2 linked regions of the Homo sapiens genome follow. The protein of the gene in region 2 purifies or fractionates together with the protein of the main gene of each other region. This does not show direct contact. Each region holds a gene or a part of one and is shown on either strand. Other genes may lie near its edges.

What was found.
Region 1: the proteins of ASB5 (region 2) and GCN1 purify together in Homo sapiens (affinity purification with mass spectrometry, with the first as the bait; one large-scale study listed by BioGRID). This does not show direct contact.

What each region holds. Positions count from the first base shown.
Region 1 is NC_000012.12:120,159,946-120,163,766, forward strand, and holds part of GCN1 (stalled ribosome sensor GCN1), read right to left. Parts: intron 3,315-3,821; coding exon 3,125-3,314; intron 3,027-3,124; coding exon 2,902-3,026; intron 2,114-2,901; coding exon 1,935-2,113; intron 1,639-1,934; coding exon 1,545-1,638; intron 311-1,544; coding exon 197-310; intron 79-196; coding exon 1-78. UniProt on the Homo sapiens protein: Ribosome collision sensor that plays a key role in the RNF14-RNF25 translation quality control pathway, a pathway that takes place when a ribosome has stalled during translation, and which promotes ubiquitination and degradation of translation factors on stalled ribosomes.
Region 2 is NC_000004.12:176,213,158-176,217,528, forward strand, and holds the end of ASB5 (ankyrin repeat and SOCS box protein 5), read right to left. Parts: intron 3,853-4,371; coding exon 3,661-3,852; intron 2,571-3,660; coding exon 2,443-2,570; 3' UTR 516-2,442; downstream 1-515. UniProt on the Homo sapiens protein: May be a substrate-recognition component of a SCF-like ECS (Elongin-Cullin-SOCS-box protein) E3 ubiquitin-protein ligase complex which mediates the ubiquitination and subsequent proteasomal degradation of target proteins.

The sequences.
Region 1 (3,821 bases), on a different chromosome or scaffold from region 2:
GTACTGGGTCAGGCCGGACGGGTTCTTGGCCAGGATGATGTCCAGCAGTCCAAGCGCCGCCTCCAGCTCCCCATCCAGCTGCAAGCAGAGTTGTCCAGAAGGCAGGTCAGCAGGGCCCTGCTTGTGACAGCAAGCAGCAGGACCAAGCTGCCCAGCACTCTTCCGGCTTGAGCATGTGGCGGAGGTGGCCACTCACCTCCTGCAGCCGCCTCCGGACCTGCGCCTCCCTGTCTAGCTGGGCCTGCAGCATCTCCTTCTGCTTGCTGGTCAGCTGCACCTCCTCTTTGATGCCTTTCTTCTTCTTTATCTCCTAAAGAGGATGGGCAAACCAACCAATCCCATCTCCAGGGAACAGACCTCCCTCCCCAACAGAGGAAGGTGAGCTTGCTTCCACACAAACAGCACCATACCAGCTCTAAGTGTGAGTTGGGCCCCTGAACCCACCATGTGCACCCCCAACCTCCCACAAAGTCCACAGCCACCTGGTTTCTATAGAATGGAGACAGCAATAGAGAAGTAGTTGTTTTACTGGATTCTCTACTGACAAAGGCTAAGAGGGCTTTTTATGTTAGAGAAATAAAGGTTCCTCAATGTACTCAAAAGGGTATTCTGACAGCCAAATGGATTCAGAATCAAAACTTTAGCCTCCTCCTCTCCAACCCCTTCCTACATAAGCTCTCCCACAGGATAAGCTGAAGCTTAGAAAAGGCCTGCTATAGTGGCCTGAGACAACAAGCCACAGAACTCACTCACTCATTCAGCAAACATTTAGTGAGCACCTGGATTGTGCCAGGCACTGTTCCAGATGGCAGGAATATCGTAGGAACAAGATAAAGTCCCTGCCCTCACGGAGCTCACAATCTAGCAGGCGAAGATAGATAATAAACAAGTCAACAAGCACATAAACAAGATGCTTTTGGGTTATGATAAATGTTAGTAAAGAAACAAATATGATGTTTAGTAAAAGGGAGGAAGGGTGGGGTCTACTTTGGATAGGGTGGACAAGCTGGCCACCTCTCTGAGAAGCACACATGTGGACTGAGATGAGAAAGACAAGAAGAATCCTGCCTTGTAAAGACAGAGAGAAGAGCAAACGCTGAGAAGGAAAGAGTCCTGTGTGCTCTGCTCCTGTCAGAACCTGCTCTGCCCAAAGCTGAATTCAGCAATCAAGTCATGATTCCCCAGAAGTCCCACTGTACCAGGCGCTGTGCCTGCTATCAGGAGTCTAGATGGGTCCCAGTCTTCAAGGAAGTGGAGGGACAGACATGGAATCCAGCAACACCACTTAGCAGAGGAGACACGTGCACTGTCGCCAGCACCCAGCAGAGAAAGAAACCGGTTTTGAGTTGTGGGTGGAAGAAGCTATGAAGCAAGGGTGAAGGGAAAGTGTGCCAGTGCACCAGACACTGGTCAGGGGCATCAGAGGAGTGTGCCATGGGCCTCAGGATGTTCCAAGTGAACAGCATATGTGCAGTGGGAAAAGCCACCAGCTTGAGGCCACCAAGCTCAGCAGCCACCTTCCGTAAGTGCCTCCGTGTACTCACCTCCTTCAGCTCCAGCTCGATGATCTGCTCTTTGAAGGAATAAGCTTTGTTCTCTCGCTTCATGTTGGCCTTTTTTATGCTGTCCTGCTGGGCACTGAAACACCAGAGTGGGTCATCAGCCAGCTTGAAAAGCACCGCAAGTCCTGTCAGCCTCCCGCCAGCCATGCAATTCCAACTAGCTGTTAAGCACTGTGCACCAGCACAGTGCCGGATACTGGACACACTTAAATACCCAGGACCTAAGCACCGTGCCGGGGACACAACAGGCGCTTAGCCAATGAATGGATAGGCTGTTGCATTCAACTCACAGGAGGCACTGGCTCCATTCTACACACAAGAAAACTATGCCTTGGGGAGCAAAGGAAACTGAGCCCATAAGTGAGGTCTCACCTCTGAATGATGGATTTGTCATACAGCTCCCCAGCAGGGGTCTGCATAATGGCAAACTCCTCCCGCGTCACCAGGCGCAGTGCAGGGTTCTGCACGGAGGCAGTGATGGTGCTGATGAGCTGTGGGAGGACCCGGTCCGGCGACAGGACGGAAAGGGAGCCCATGGCATTCATGGAGGACTGCCAGACAAACGCAGACATGGTCAGTGTGTGCCAAGGCTGGCACTGGCAAGAGGTCCACCACACCTGAATGCCCCTAGCACTGGCTCCCCTTCTTTATGCCACTGCCTTGTTACTCCTGGGCAATGCCCATCACAGTGGCCGGCTGGAGTCTGCGTCTGCTTTCCTCACCAAGCAGTGCTCCTCTGTCTGACACAGCACCTGACGTGAGGTGATACACTCCTTCCCAATTCTCAATCTCCGTGGTTCAGGTGGAGCTGCCCTCACTTTTTCCAGAGGTAGGCATGTGACCCAGAACAGAAGGATGGGTGCAGAGATGAGCATGGCACCCAAGTCAGATTAATCAGGGTCAAAGCGACCCCAAGCCAGTAGACATTATTGAAATATGCAAGCTATTCCCCTAGGAGCTGATGGCAAGACAAAGCCTGGAACTCTAGCAGCTCTTGTGCTACCAGAAAGGGAAAGCCTGAGAATGGAGCCCACATCGTGGAAAACAGAGACAACAGACAAAGATGGATGGGACAGAGTAAGAGAGACATCACCTACAATGTTCCAAGGGCAACATGTGAACCCCTGTAGCCAGTCATATCCTTGGACTTTGCAGGTAAATGAGGCAGTAAGTTCCCTTTTGTGCTTAAACCAGTTTACATTTCTGTCACGTGCAACCAAGGGTCCAAGCCTACATTTCATCCATCTTCACCTGCTTCTTTGAATCCTCTCTTCCTGTACACTGTGATGAGAGGGCCCCCTCCCGGACCTGAGGCCAGACCAGCTCATGTGCCCGTCACCTGGTTTAGGGGACTCTGTGTGGTCATCCTGGGAATGATCTGATCCAGGTGCCTGGTGATAAAGGCTTCAGGATCGATCTTCATCCTGGCAAGAAGTGCTGGCCAAAGTCCAGACTGCACGGCAACTGAAGGGGAAGGGAGCTCTTTGAGGCCTTCTGCCTGGCCTGCTCTTACCCCATCCCCTAAAGCTCTGGGCTCTCCCACACCCACCGCAGCCACGGACCTAAGGATGGGTGGTGGGAGATGATCAGCATTTCCTGGGCCAGTTGTTCAGTGTCGGTGACATCACCCTTGAGCCCTGGCACACCGGAGATGACACACAGAGCCTCCTGCAGGACCCGTGGAGGCACGTAGGCCTTGCCTGCCTCAGTCACCTCTCCAGCATCAGTCACCAAAGCCTCTAAGGGCAGCACCTGTGTGGAGACACATGAGATAATACTGCTAAGAGCCCTGTGCAGGCTTGGAACACAGGAACCAAATATGCTACGGACACAGCGGCCCCTCACTCAGTTCTTCCCTGGGGTCCTTGCTGGAGTAGAAATGGATGCCCAGCTTCCTGCAATGGGACCCACAGGCTGTGAGATGTGCCTGGAAGAAGGAAGCACCTGTGGCTTTGCATCTAAAAAGCCTGCAGGGGTAAAGAAGGCACCAGGAACTGGTCCAGGAGACCCAGCCTGTGGTGGCAAGTCTGTCACTGGCCCACATTCCTCAACAGGCTTTGGGAGGGAGGGAAGCAGTGGAACACGGCACAAAGAGCACAGAAATAACAGCCAGGTCTTTGAGGGTCTCCCTCCGTCGGGGGAGACCCTGTGCAAGTCATTTGAACTCCTAGAACCCTGGTCAATTCATATGACACAAGAATAACAAGCCCTATTTGCCTTTGAAACGCATTGTTAAAAAAAAAATCAAAAGGAAAAAAT
Region 2 (4,371 bases):
TGCTATGATGGAACAAAGAAAACCTTCTACTCTGAAGAGGCCTTTCTTTTCTACTACATATCTATTTACTTTCTCAGAAACACCAAATATATGCTGTGGTTATTAAAACAATAGAATTTAATTACTTTTTTAATCCAAAAAAATTGTTTCAACAGTGTCTATCTACAGTTATTGTTTTACTAAATTTCTTAAATCTTATGTCACATAGTAACTATTTTGTTTCTTTTACTTTGTGAAATTTTGTCCTTGAACTTTAATGTGTGTGTATACATATATGTATATATGTATATTATATGTATTAAATATCACATATATTATATGTATTATATGTCACATATATATAAAATATGTCTTGGATTAGAAGGTCTTTGAGGTATCTATTTTTTATTCTGTGCTACTCTATCTTAATGCTCATGATTCAGTGATTTGGAAACTGGTGGTGAAAAAAATTAGTGCAACTGAGTCACTCCATGACTTTTCATTATAAAATAAAATAATGAGACAAACACAAAGTGTTTTATTCCAATGAATAATAATCACACTTTAATATAATAACAAACATACAATACATTAAAGTTAGAACACTACTTTGATAAGACAATCATACTCAAGCTAAGATACAAGGTACAGACATACTGAAATTGTAAAGTGACCATTTTAATGTTTGATATTTACTTCTCTTATTGGCACAAGACTAATAAGATAGATGGGTTGTATTACTCTTAAAATCTAAGACTTCTCCTCTAGCTCAGGGAAAATACTGGTGGAAACCTGTTTTACCCAAAAGCAGCTTTAATATCTGTTTAACCAGGTTATTCTATAATAAGAACTCCATTTTAATGCACGTTATCCATTACAAATGTGTGAGATATTCTATAAAACACATATTTAAAGGTCCCTATCCTCATATAAAACATTGTTTAGTGAATATGCTACAGCTTTATTTCTATGTTTGAAAATCTCAACAAACGTTTTAAATCACAACTGATTTTTTTTCTTTCTGCCAAAATGCAAGCTTAGTGATCTGGGGGTCACATACAATCATAATTTATTTTCCCATAGTCTGGAAGTTAGCCAAGAAGTCAGAAGAAAATAAGCCCTGGGTTGTTGAAAATAGTGGTCAAAATATTTACTTTATCAAAATTTAATAAATCTATAAAACTCACCCAAAGTTGCTTTTGTTTTACAAAGAGTTGTACGTTGATTATCTTATTTCTAAAATCATAATAGGCCCTGAATTACAAAACAGGCATAAAATTTTATTAAGTTTTTTATTGCACTCAAGTATAGTTAAAGCTGAAGAGAATAAACGTAGTATTTACCCTTGCAGAGGACTAGCTTAGTAATATCTTCTTTTATACAATACTCTCTTGCTATTACTTGCAAATACAGTATACTCTAAGCCCTTGTTTTGTGTAAAAAGAATTAGAAACAGTGCGATTAAGTTCTCTATATACATTTTTTAAGGTCTCCAATGTGTTAAGTGGCACCCACTCTTTAAAAACTCCACAATTTGAGTTTTTAATCTTCCATTTTTTTATATCCTTGGACTGATGTGATGATCCCCGGAATATGATCCAGGGCCTGTTTGTTAATTAGATATATAGTTCATTTTCTTAAGTCCAAGTATCACTAGCTATTGACAATTTCTGAAATGGAAGAAGGCTGGAGTAATATGCATATAACCGCCTTGATAAGAGATCATCAGGGGCTACTCCTGAGAAGGAGGCAGTCTTAACATAGCCTTAGAAGGTGTGTAATGTTCTAAATATCTCAGGGTGAGAGGGCAGTATTGACCTTTCATCCTATCACTTTTCTGTAACAAGTCCATGTACTATGGAGAAGAGAAGTGACTTGTGAGTCCTTTGCCAGGGGTAAGTGGGGGAGAGGGGGGCAATTTATCTTTATGAAGTGTTCATTCTAATGACCAGTGGACATTCAACATAGTGGATTTCCTGAATGAGCATCATCCTGGTTTCAGAAAACATATTAGTTGCTCTTTGCTAAGCCATATTCATATTTTATGTCAATATCAGTAACAAGTTAGCCAATTACAATAGCCAAAATTAAAAAGTTAACCCATTAGTTGAAGAACATAGACCTTTTTAAATATAATATGAATAACTTTACTAGGAGCTTTATTTCTTTCCAATCCAAAAGAAAACATAAGATAGTGACTTTATTATTTTTTCCTGAATAAACAGGAGGGTATATTGAAATAACAAAAAATAGATATTATAAATATGCTATAATCCAAAGACAGCATAAATGATAAAACAATAGTACTAATACACTTAAAATGAAAATTGATATTTTACTGCTTCCCTGGGTGATCTCACACTCACTTTTATCCTATCTTTAGCATATTTTTATATGAACTATTCCTTAAGCAAAAGAAATAGAAATTTTGATTTTCAAGGTATTTAGAATTACTTTACTGTTTTATCGATACTGTAAGAAATTCTTCAGTAACGTTGGCAGCTGGAGTTGTGGGATAAGGTGCAATCTTGGTTTTCCTATGTAGCTTCGGATACAGAGTCGGCAAAGTTGGTAAAGAGAGCTTGGGGTAGCTACAAGAAGACATGAATCTATTTGTTAATTAAAATAGAAATGAATTTTTTATGTTGTAAGGTACATAACATAAAACCATAAAAACTACAATGCTTTGTAGTAAACCTAGGATAGCATGACCACTATACTAGGGAAATTTATGTAAGCAGTTATATTGCTTTTATTTATAAGATCTTATTATAATTGAGATATATTCCATATACATTCCTTAAAATATTATAATCCTCAGGCTTAGGAAATAATTGTTGAATTTAAAGCCTCAGAAACAAAGTCTGCTTTTTGAAGGAGATATAAATCAAAAGTCCTGAGAAGTATTATGCACTAAAAGGGGAAATTTTAAAATTAAGTTTAATATTTACCCTAAAAGAAATATTATAGTCCCTGGACTAGGATTAAGAAATCCTATTTTAGAACAAAAGTCTCAAATGTAAAAATATTTACTAATTTTATTTCTATAATATGTTATAGAAGGTTCATGTCCTTATAAAATGGGGCATGCTCCAAATATAAATCAGCAGATATTATACCAGAAGTGCATATAATGCATTACTGAAACTAATTGAATATATTTAACCAAAAATATATGAGAGTTTAGGTAAGATGAAAGAGAAAATTAAAATTATCATTTTTTTTCTTTTTTTTAGATGGAGTCTCACTCTGTTGCCAGGTTGGAGTGCAGTGGCGTAATCCTGGCTCACTGCAACCTCCGCCTCCCGGGTTCAAGTGATTCTCCTTCCGCAGCCTCCTGAGTAGCTGAGATTACAGGCACGCACCACCATGCCCAGCTAATTTTTGTGTTTTTAGTAGAGACAGGGTTTCACCATGTTGGCCAGGATGGCCTTGATCTCTTGACCTTGTGATCCACCCGCCTTGGCCTCCCAAAGTGCTGGGATTACAGGTGTGAGCCACCACACTCGGCTGATATCTTCTTTATAGATAAAACCTAAGTTAAAAATCATCTACTTTCACAAATAATATTCCACATTTTATGCCATTGTTACTTTCCATGCCAACAAAAACTCTCTCACTTTCATCTATTTTAGGCAAATATATTTTGTTTTTGTAAGTTTCCACATGTATTTTTCTTACCTTCATGTTGAAGCAATATCCTTTCCACCATACTGCTAGACGTAGCTACATCTATAGGTCGCAGAAGCTCTGTATTTTTGGCATTGATATCTGCTCCAAATTCTAGCAGTAAGTTTACAATTTCTGTGCTGGATTGTTGAGCAGCAGCATGTAATGGAGTATCCCAATATTTGCCTTTCTGTACGTCAGCACCTACATGTAATACGGAGTGAAGATAAATATAAATAAAAGTTGTTAAATAAGCCAGCTGCCTCAGTGGGGATAGAAAAGGAAAGGCAATAGAGGAAGGTTATTAAGGGGACTTCAACTCTATTTGTTATGAGTTATTTCTTTATATACATATACAGTATCTACATACACATATATGCCTCATATGTACATATACATATATATAAACTGGGCACATCTGAATGGCAGAGGGTACATACATTTGTTATGTGACTCTCTGATACTTTTCTGTATGCTTGAACTATCATAATAAAATTCTTTTTAACTTTTAAATGATTCCAAAAGTAACCATACTAACTACTATTATAAAGAGTGCACAATTAAGTTCACTCATTTTTATTTTCATCATGGTTGATAGCTTTTAGAATTATTCAGGTGCTTATTTCTATTATTCTTTTCATTTATTTAAGGCAATGAAGCTCTTTGGTTTTCTTGGGAAACTCATGAATATGTGAGCTATTTAGGTAAAATGTATATAGATTT